2 separate regions of the Homo sapiens genome follow, and region 2 is linked to region 1. Evidence: fine-mapped expression QTL. Tissue or cell type: whole blood. Region 1 holds a variant in brackets; the other region holds the start of a gene. All regions are shown on one strand. Distances are between the middles of the regions. Region 1 overlaps SLC9A3 (solute carrier family 9 member A3). Region 2 holds the start of EXOC3 (exocyst complex component 3).

Evidence for each region.
Region 2: EXOC3 starts here. The variant in region 1 is fine-mapped to the expression of EXOC3 in whole blood (INTERVAL, PIP 0.94).

Annotation. Positions count from the first base shown.
Region 1 is chr5:485,399-490,761 of GRCh38, forward strand. SLC9A3 (solute carrier family 9 member A3) reads right to left here. Exons shown (of 17, transcript NM_004174.4): 3 at 2,918-3,078. Among named protein-coding and RNA genes, the nearest start is that of SLC9A3-AS1, 15 kb to the left of the region's middle. The variant A/G (reference allele first, on the strand shown) is at 2,785.
Region 2 is chr5:440,735-446,097 of GRCh38, forward strand. It overlaps EXOC3 (exocyst complex component 3), which reads left to right and starts at 2,442. Exons shown (of 13, transcript NM_007277.5): 1 at 2,442-2,556. EXOC3-AS1 (EXOC3 antisense RNA 1) reads right to left here and starts at 2,426. Exons shown (of 1, transcript NR_126522.1): 1 at 1,101-2,426. RefSeq lists enhancers at 244-303, 1,887-1,936, 1,957-2,066, 2,837-2,966, 3,017-3,106 and 1 more and a silencer at 2,147-2,536.

The DNA.
Region 1 (5,363 bases):
CCCAGCAGCCAGCAAGACATGGGGCAAAAGAATGTTCTGGAGGGGACCAGAAGCTTTGGGAGCAAAGCTGGCCTCTTCCTATCCTCTGCAAAACAGGGGCAGCTGCAAAGCTCCCTGCCACTTGAATTCTGAGTCTCATCTACGGAGACAAACCCAGGGTGTCAGTTTGAGTGACTTCCCTGCTGTGCTGGCTCTAGCCCCTGCCGTCTTTGCATGTTTTTAAACCTTAGCCCGGCAAAACCCAGAGATAAAATGCGGGGAAACCTTATCCACGCCCTGGGCTCCACGCCCAGCAAAGTGGTGACGCAGGTGAGACCGGCCGAGGGCCGTCCTGGGTGGGCCGAGGCCCCTGGGGAGAACCTGGCTCTGCACCCAGCTCTGTGTCTCTGGCTCTGGCCAAGGTGGGAGAGGACCCTGGGGCAGGCGTGTAAGTTGGGTTTGCAAATGCAGGCTGGGGTGGGGGGCCCATGAGGGTCCCGGGGTCTCTTGGGGCCTTCTCGGAGCTGGGCTTTTTAATGAAAATCCAGCTGGGAGGGAAGACAACCTCTTGGGAGACTCTTGCTTCTCCAGGGACGGGAGCCGCAGGGCTGCGGGGCACACGGGGCTGTCACTCTATTCCCGATTAAGTCTCACTTCCCAAATTCCCCCGAGAATATCTTGCCGTCTGGTGTGCGACACCCACAGGACTTTCCTCTTTCCAAAACCCCTAAGGGAACATGAGAGGCTGACGGGTTTCAAACCTTTCAAACCACAGGCACTTTCAGAGGGGAGAGGAAGCTGACCCCACCCTTCCCTCCGGCTGCGTCTGCAGGGTCCTCGGGGCTGGGGGAGGATGGGCAGGGGCAGCACGGGGCGGGGGCAGTGTGGGGGCTGGGATGGTGTCGGGGCCGGGCCCAGGGCTGGCCTCACTGACGGTTCCTAGGAGGGCCACTCTGCACGTGCCCCTCGGATGGCCCCATGACTCACTTCCGGGAGGCAGTGGCCCCATTTGATGGGATTGGCTTTGAAACGTCACGATTGTCACTGTGAAGTAGTAACCATGTTCCTTGGGGTTCCTGAATCTTCTCCTGGCCTTACTGAGCGCTGATGTGGCCTTTGGGCCTCTGTGGAGGCACCGTCCCCGCCTCCCGGAACACCATCTCCTCCAGGGACACCCACACACCGTCCGGGCTCTGCCGTTAGCACCAGTTCAGTTTCCCTCCCTTCACCTCTGTCATGGGCCAAATTGTGCCCCCGAAATTCCCATGTTAAAGTCCCCAGGACCTGGGCATGTGAGCGTGAAAAAGGGGAGTATGGCACAGTCAGGTCACCGGGGTGGACCCTGATCCAATAGGACCCGTGTCCCTGTGAGAGGAGGCGACTCGGGCACATTCACGCAGGGACGGCCACGTGAGGACACGGGAAGGCACCGTCTGCAAGTCCAGGACCGGGGTCCCGCAGGAGCCCACCACACTGACACCGTGATCCAGACCGCACTGACACCCACCGCACTGACACCGTGATCCAGACCGCACTGACACCCACCACACTGACACCCACCGCACTGACACCCACCACACTGACACCGTGATCCAGACCGCACTGACACCCACCGCACTGACACCGTGATCCAGACCGCACTGACACCCACCACACTGACACCCACCGCACTGACACCCACCACACTGACACCCACCGCACTGACACCCACCACACTGACACCGTGATCCAGACCGCACTGACACCCACCACACTGACACCCACCGCACTGACACCCACCACACTGACACCGTGATCCAGACCGCACTGACACCCACCACACTGACACCCACCGCACTGACACCCACCACACTGACACCGTGATCCAGACCGCACTGACACCCACCACACTGACACCCACCGCACTGACACCCACCACACTGACACCGTGATCCAGACCGCACTGACACCCACCACACTGACACCCACCGCACTGACACCCACCACACTGACACCGTGATCCAGACCGCACTGACACCCACCACACTGACACCCACCGCACTGACACCCACCACACTGACACCGTGATCCAGACCGCACTGACACCCACCACACTGACACCCACCGCACTGACACCCACCACACTGACACCGTGATCCAGACCGCACTGACACCCACCGCACTGACACCCACCACACTGACACCCACCACACTGACACCCACCGTCGTTCAAGGCACTGCACCTGCGGTACTTTGTCATGGCGGCCCTGGCAGATTACGTGGTTCCTATGGGATTTTGTTGTTTGCTATTCACGTATTTATTTTATTTGAGATGGAGTCTCACTCTGTCACCCAGGCTGGAGTGCGATGGCACGATCTCGGCTCATTGCAACCTCTGCCTCCTGGTTTCAGGTGATTCTCCTGTCTCAGCCTCCCCAGTAGCTGGGATTACAGGCGCGTGCCACCACCCCTGGCTAATTTTTGTATTTTTAGTAGAGACGGGGTTTCACCATGTTGGCCAGGCTGGTCTCGAACTGCTGACCTCAGGTGATCCACCTGCCTCGGCCTCCCAAAGTGCTGGGATTACAGGCGTGAGCCACCGCACCCGGCCACTCATGTATTTTTTAGGAACTCAGGAATGGGTGGCAGTAACTGTGGGTCCAAAGTCACAGACGCTCTGGGGACCAGGAGGGCGGGATTTCAACAGCGCCATCATTAACCCTGAAGCTATGGAGTGGGCGGGCAGGGCCTGGGAACTGTGGAAGATACAAAGAAGCCTCGCGAAAGCTGCCAGTCGTTCTGAGCTGGGAGGAAGGAGGTGGAGGG[A/G]CGGGACGCCCCCGGGAGGGGAGTTTGAGGACAGGGTTTCACGCCCTCCTTTGCTGACTGACCGATGGGGGGTGAGACGGGGCCCAGGCCTCCCACGGCTCGCCCGCTCTGGAGCGGTGGCTCCGTTGCTCACCACGGTGACTGCGTCGTTCAGCAGCGACTCCCCGAAGACGATGATGAACAGGACCTCGTTGACATGGACCTCCTCAAACACGGCCAGGACGGCCACCGGGTCCACAGCCGCCATGAGGCTGCCAAACAGGAGGAAGTCCAGCAGCCCAATCTGCAGGTCGCCTGGAAGACAAGCCGGGCCGCGGGGCAGCTGCAGGGCCTGCCACCCGAGGAGGAGGGCCCTGGGGAGGCGCTCGCCTACGGGTCGGGGTTCGGAGCCCGTCTGGCTGGCGCCGGTGGCGTGGGGAGCTGGGTCAGCTTCCTGCGTCCCTCCCACAGACCCCCAGCCCCCTCCAGGGAAGGCTGCTGTCTTCCGAGGGGGCCACCCCATCTGAGCAAGACAGACAGACAGACTGACCCTGGCCCTGGCCCTCTCCTTCATCTTTGGGTGAACGGAGGCAGGTGGGTGCAGGGGCACCGCATGCTGGGGAGGGATGGGGGCCCATCGCCTGGAGTGGCGTCCCAGCCCAGGAGAAGCAAGTGGGGCTGACCCAGGACGGGCCCGGAGCCGGGACACACAGCACCCAGGGGCGCGGCCAGGGAGGGGCAGGTGGGAGGGCCGTTGGGGGTGTGGGGGCAGATTGTGGGGATGAGCAGGGCTGCGGTGGGAGCAAGGGGGCCCGGAAGACGTGGGTCCATGTGGTCCCTAGCTCCCGGCCGGCTTCCCTCCCCGCATCTGCCTGTGGGCTCTGGTGCCCCTCGCTGGGGAGGTTTTACTGAAATGCAGCCTTATCCTTCACAAGTCTTTGCCATTCAACCCAGGGTTCAGGCCTCGAGGAGGCCACGTGGGGGTGCCAGGCTCCAGGGGACCCTCAGGGAACTGAGTGTGGCCACGTGGCCCCGAGAGTCTGCCCTCTCTCACGGCCGCAGGGCTCAGAGGACACTGGGCCTCCTTGCTGCCTTCCCGGCCGTGAGGGTCCAGGGACCAGGAGACGCCAGGGCCGTGAGGGTGTGGGAGAGACCACCCAGGGAGGGGGAGGCCCCCGACGAGTCCCCCCGCACAGCTGCTGCCTCTCTGCTGGGCTGGAGCGGAGCCCACCACCCCTCTGGGCTGAGGCTCGGGCTGAGGAGGGGTTTGTCCCTGGAGCCGGACGGGCCCCAGGAGACAGCAGAGAGCAGCCTGGCCAGGGGTTTCTGTGCTGGCGCCTGGGAGGGGACAGATCAGGGTCATCTCTGCGGTGACTAAACCCCGAGTTTGCTGTGAGCTCCTAAGCCCCAGCAGCCTCTGGCCAGTGTCACAACACCCCGAGGAAGTGACAGATGCCAGAAGAACCAGCGTTCAGGGAGTTAAAGTTCCATGTTGGAACGGGAACCACACAAGCCTTCTCCTCTTCCAAACTCAGGCCTCAGGACACGAATCCCCTTCAAGGTCATCTTTAAACGCGGCCTCCTGGCACGGCCGCCCCCAGGGCAGTGATGGCCCCCATGGATGTCCTGGGGTCGGCCGCGTTCAGACTCCCCGGCCGGCAGCCTTCCCGTCTGGACAGTTGCCCACGGCCGTGCCAGGAGGGCTCATGCCACCAGACCGCATGTTCCAGGCCTTTCTCCACCACGTGCTTTGCCTGTGCAAGGGCCTCTGATGCCTGAAGCTCTCGCAGGGCCTGTCCCCACACTGCCCGGACAGCCCCCGGGCCAGCACTGCCATGTCGACCCTTTCCCATGGGGCACGTTTGGCCTTGAGACGCTCCACAGGGCTTGGCCTCTGGTCTGCAGAGATCAGTTGCAGCCTCCCAGCTCTCTTGGACTCCCAGGAATGGGATGGACCTGCCGGCCATGGGCATCTCTGTTCCAGAACCTCAGGCAGCACCCAGCTTTGACCAGCTGGGCCCCAAGGCTGAGCGCAGGCCTCCAGCATCCGTGTCACCTGGGGAGCGGCCTGCCCCAGGGGGCACAGCGATACCTGGGACACGTGTTTCTCATGAGGAGCGTTGTTGGAGGACGGTAGAGTCCAGCGTGGCGAGGGGCAGGGGTGGAGTGCAGCGTGGCGAGGGGCAGGGGAGGGCCAGGGGTGACGTCCTGGTGTGGGGAGTCCTCCAGGGCTTCATGGTGCAGGTGCAGCAAGGACGTCCTCCAGGCTCGGCCAGTTGCACCGAGGACATTCTGCTTCGTGCAAGGGAAATCCGGCAGTGTCTCTGGCCAATGCTAGGCGGGGACCATTGTGACGTGGCCACAGAGCCACGGAGTGTGCCCGGCTCTCAAAGGAGCGGCCCTGACGGCCAGACTGATCACAGGCTACTCCATCCCACACTCGACACAGCTGGGAGGAAGCTGGGATCTCATGGGCGAGGGGCCATCTGGCAAGGTAGGTGTGAGCCTCGAGGGGCCGCGGGTCCAGGAGTCTCTGCTACAACCCCTGAGGCTTTCCCTTGGGTGCGGTGGCTAGGGCGGCTGCCCCATCCGAGGTGTGT
Region 2 (5,363 bases), 45 kb before region 1:
TCCTGTCAAGGTGGAGGAGGATCCCTCTAGCAATGACCCTGGGTTGGCTTCCGCCGAGGGCTGAGTTTAGGAACAGTCTCCAGGCTGTTGCTGTTTTCCTAGTCCACGCTTTCACTGAGGATGCATCCCTTGCACATCTGTGCTTCACATGGGAGTCGCCGTCCACCTCCCACCTGCTGGGAGCCTTAGCTTCATCATCTGTCCTGCTTCAGTGTAAAACCCAACCCCTGGGCCGCAGAACTCGCACCCTACCCACCCACCTGCCTGCTGTAGGACGGCAAGCATCTCTGCTTCTGATTCACGTCCTCTCCCCTTCCCACATTTGTCCCTGGTCACGTCCTTGCCTGTTCGTGAATCCACTTGTGCAATCGACATGATGCTTGCACTCAGCAGTGCTCCTGGGTGTTCGCAGAACATGGTCTGCCAAAAACAGAAGTCAAGAAACTTTTTTTTTTGAGACAGATTCTCCCTCTGTCACCCAGGCTGGAGTGTAGTGGTGCCATCTCAGTTCACTGCAACCTCCTCCTCCCGGGTTGAAGCCATTCTCCTGCCTCAGCCTCCCAGGGAGCTGAGATTACAGGCATGCACCACCATGCCTGGCTAATTTTTGTGGGGTTTTTTTTGGTAGAGATGGGGTTCCTACCAAAAAGACCATGTTGCCCAGGCTGGTCTCAAACTCCTGGGCTCAAGGGGTCTGCCCATCTCAGCCTCCCAAAGTGCTGGGATTACAGTTAGGAGCCACTGCGCCCAGCCAATAAATACCTTTTTTTTTTTTTTTTTTTTTTTTTTTTTTTTGAGACGGAGCCTCGCTCTGTTGCCCAGGCTGGAGTACAGTGGCGCGATCTTGGCTCACTGCAAGCTCCGCCTCCCGGGTTCACGCCATTCTCCTGCCTCAGCCTCCCGAGTAGCTGGGACTCCAGGGGCCCACCACCACACCTGCCTAGTTTTTTTGTATTTTTTTTAGTAGAGACGGGGTTTCACCATGTTAGCCAGGATGGTCTCGATCTCCTGACCTCATGATCTACCTGCCTCGCCTCCCAAAGTGCTGGGATTACAGGCGTGAGCCACGGCGCCCCGCCAAGAAAGACTTCTAATCAATGTTTTGTTAAGAAGTTACTAGACAGTCCTCCATCCAAATTCACTACCAGACACTGATATAATAGTATGAGTCTTTAGTTCATAATACTCAATGTTACTATATTTTTAAGAGTCCTAAAAGCTTTGGCAATTTTGGCAATTTTTTCTTCATTAGTTTCAAAATTTCTTTACAGTCATAATTTCTAACACAATTTTAACTTTTTTACTTTTTTTCATTGCTCAACTTGTTGCTAGATTTTCAGAAATTACAAGGAAAAACTGAAATAATAGAGCCGGGGTCAGTGTCAACATCAGCAGGGCACGGGGCAGGGCTCCCTGTCGGAGTGGCAGTGGGGGCTCCCGCAAGCTCCATCTCCTTCCTGTGTGCCCCTGCCCCATGCTGCTGCCACTTCCCTGGTCTCTGCTGGCTTCCCTGCCACCTTCCAGACCCTTCCTTTCGTGTGGCTAATTTTCAGGAGGGGCAGGGGCACAACCTAGCAGCTCCAACCTATGAAAGACTTTGTCAGTTGGTGTGTCAAAGCCAGCATCTTTTATCAAACAGACAAACCCTGAACGCTCGTGGTTTAGCACGTGCTTCTTCCTCCAGGCGAAGCCAAGTGCTGGCCATGGGCCTCTCCTCCAGGAAGCGACTCAGGACCGGCCCTCTGCAGCGCGGCCCAGTGACCCACATTCATTCTCCAAGACCTGCGCTGCTGGGCCTCTGAGGGGCCCCGGAAACATCCGGTGGCCACCCATCCCACTGGCATTGTTCCCACGAGGGTGCCAATGACTGCGCTCCTGGAGGGGCTGAGTTCGTCTTTGGGTCCAGGAGGTACCCAAAGCCGCTTGTCTGCTGGTGGCAGGTATGACAGACGTTTGATTCCCAACCTTCTCCGCTTTGGTTTCTTCGTTTACTGAATGCCCGGCGCCCACCTCAGTCCGCGGGAAACGAGGGACGCCCCTGCCACACTGCAGTGCGGACGACGAGGCCAACATAAAGACAGCAGGCATCAGCAGAGGATGGAGACAGCGGCTCTGGGGCTGTCTTCTCTCCGCAGGTTGGGAAGGGAAAGGAGAGAAAATGCACGCAGTCACGCTCGGCGGAGGCGTCCAGGACTGCGCCCGCCCTGGGGAAGGGCGCACGCGGTGGTCGCCAGGGGCAGCGAGAGGGCCTGAGTTGGGGGGGCTGGGACGGACAAGAAGCCCCCCACCTCGGCGGTTTCCCTGTCCTGCTGGGGAGCGGCCATGGGGCAGGTCCCCGAGCTGAAGTCGCTCGGCCGGGAGACGAGTACCCGCCCCGCGGGAGGGCCCGGACCCGTGCTTCCGGCGCCGTTGCCGGAAGCGGAAGTGCCCGCGCGCTGTCCACTTCCGGCCGGGACCCCGGAGGCGGAGGCAGCGAAGGCGGAGGGGGCGGCGGGGGCGGCGGCGGCGGCGGCGGCGGCGGCGGCGGCGGCGGCGGCGGCGGCGTAGCCGTAGAGGGTGAGTCGGTGGCAGGTCCTGACGGCCGGCGGGTCCTTGGGAGGTGGTCGCCGTCTTTCATCCTTGCTCTCCCTGTCTCTGGCTTCCGCGGGGGCGCGTAGGGGGAGGCCGGACCGGGACCTGGAGGGCGGGGAGGCCGTTCCGGACCCCGTGGAGTATCCCGCTCGTGCGAGTGTCCTCGGCGCAGGTGTCCTCCCCGGCACATGTGTCCCCCCCAGGCGTAGGTGTCCCCTTGGCACATGTGTCCCCACAGGCACAAGGTCCTTCCTGGTGCAGGTGTCCCCTTAACAGTGTCTTCCCCCACGCCCCAGGCGCTGGTGTCCTTCCTGGCACAGGTGTCCCCCCTCGGAGCAGGTGTCCCTCCTTGGGGCAGATGTCCCTCCAGGCACAAGTGTCCTTCCTGGCGCAGGTGTCCCCTCGGCGCAGGAGTTCTCCAAGGTGCAAGTGTCCCCTCAAGCACAGGTGTCCCTCCCAGGCACAAGTGTACTTCCTGGTGCAGGTGTCCTCTTGACGGTGTCCCCCCCCAGGCGCAGTTGTCCTTCCTGGCACAGGTGTCCCCCCTCGGACCAGGTGTCCCTCGTCGGAGCAGGTGTCCTTCTGGGCACAAGCGTCCTTCCTGGCCTTTAGGAAGCTTTCAAGGTGCAGGTGTCCTCCAAGGTGCAGGTGTCCTCCAGCGGAGTGTCCCCTCCGTGAGGTGCCTCCCAGCACAGGTGTTCCCCTCGGCGCAGGCGTCCCCCCGGTAAAGGGTCCCTCCTGGCAGAGGTGTCTGCCCGGCAGAGGTGTCTCCCTGGCGCAGGTGTCTCCGTGGGTGCTGATGTTCCCCGCAGTAGGGTGTCCCCCCGCTCGGCGGAGAGGCTCACAGCGGAGCCAGCGCCAGGGGAAGGCAGTCAGAAAGGCCCTGGTAGGGGCTGGACCTGGGTCTCTGTTTATGGTCTCTGAGTTCCTCTTTGGCTTCTGTGACCCAAAATCTTTAGTCTTCAGGCTGGGATGGAAGCCTCTGCGGTGCGTTTTTTAACTCCAGATTTTCCCCTTTTCCACATGAGTAGCTTTATTCTGACTCCAAGGCGAGCCCTGCTTCACAGCTCTCCACTCACATTGCCTTGGCTTCCACCCACAGCGTGACAGACTTCACTCCAGCCTTAAGATGGGCGCAGCCACCTCACCGCGTGCCCCAGCAGAGCGGCTGGGGGTCCACTTCTTGGGTTATTATCCAGCCCTATAATCAAAATCATACAGGCTTTAATGTCAATGGAAATGCTGATGATAATGTCCAAACAAAATAAGAAAACAAAAGTGTGCACCTACAAAGTCATATAAGCAGTGGAATCTTAGCTTTAAAAGAAACTCAAAGGGAAAAAACTGGAAGGAAACAAGCCCTGTTGGAGGGAGTTGCCCCTGAGTGTCGGGATTTAAGGGGAGTTGTCCCTGGGTGGCGGGATTTAAGGGGAGTTGCCCCTGAGTGGTGGGATATAGCGGGGGTTACCCCTGAGTGGTGGGATTTACGGGAAGTTGTCCCTGGATTGTGAGATTTAAGGGAAGTTGCCCCTGGGTAGCAAGATTTAAGAGGAGTTGCCCATAGATGATGGGATTTAAGGGGAGTTGCCTCTGGCATCTTTGTATTTTTGTCCTGTCCAGATTTTCTACGTTGGTATGCCAAATTTCATAATCAGAAAATAAAGAGAAAGGAAAGGTTGCAATGTAGGTCCAGATGAAAAAGGAGAAGAGAGGTGTCTGAAAGCATGTGGGCATGGAGAATGAAAAATTCCAGGAGAAGGTGAATCTTTTTAATATTCATGAAGATGAAAATCAGACAGCTGAAGTCAAGGGGAACAGGTGTATCGGATTCCCTCATTGACTGATGCTCACCAAGCAGCTGTGTTAGCTCCCCGAGGAGGACGATGGTGGAGGGAGCATGGAAGGCAGGCTTGCCTGGCATCTGAGCACCTGTGGTCTGCACGGGGCCTGCATAAAGGAGGGAAGCATGATGTTTTCTAGGACAGTTAAAAAAGGGGGAAATGGGGTTTTGGATACCCAAGACAATAATGACTTTTTCTTTTTTTTTCTTTTTTTTTTTTTTGAGACGGAGTCTCGCTCTGTCGCCCAGGCTGGAGTGCAGTGGCGCGATCTCGGCTGACTGCAAGCTCCGCCTCCGGGGTTCACGCCAGTCTCCTGCCTCAGCCTCCCGAGTAGCTGGGACTACAGGCACCCACCAACATGCCCAGCTAATTTTTTTGTGTGTATTTTTAGTAGATACAGGGTTTCACCATGTTAGCCAGGATGGTCTCGATCTCCTGACCTCGTGATCCACCCGCCTCGGCCTGCCAAAGTGCTGGGATTACAGGCGTGAGCCACCGGGCCTGGCTGACTATTGTCACTTTTATAGGGTGGGAATTGTGGGGCTTGTGCTGGGCCTCCAGCTGTGGTACCTGGTCGGGGGAGTTGTCCACGCTGTATTTGTCTTCACTGAGGGTCCTGGTGCAGCTGCCCACAGGCCTGGCCAAGGTGCTGGGGGAAAGCTCCCGAAATGAGAAACCAGCCCTGTCTTGGGGAGAGATGTGCCTTTGAGGCTGACATCTACATGCTGGGTGGTCTGGGACCCACATCTAGAATCTTCGCAATGTCCATGTCTCTCATGCCTGTGAAACGCCCCTGCTCTCCCCTTAAAGGTATAACTTCTGCATGTTTGTGTTACGAAGGTTTGTTTATCTTATCAAGGAGTTCCTCATCCTAGTTCAGCTTTCTTTGAGGTTTCCTGGATTAATGATCTCAGAGGCTCTGCTTGTAGCTCCACTGTGATCACCTGATAG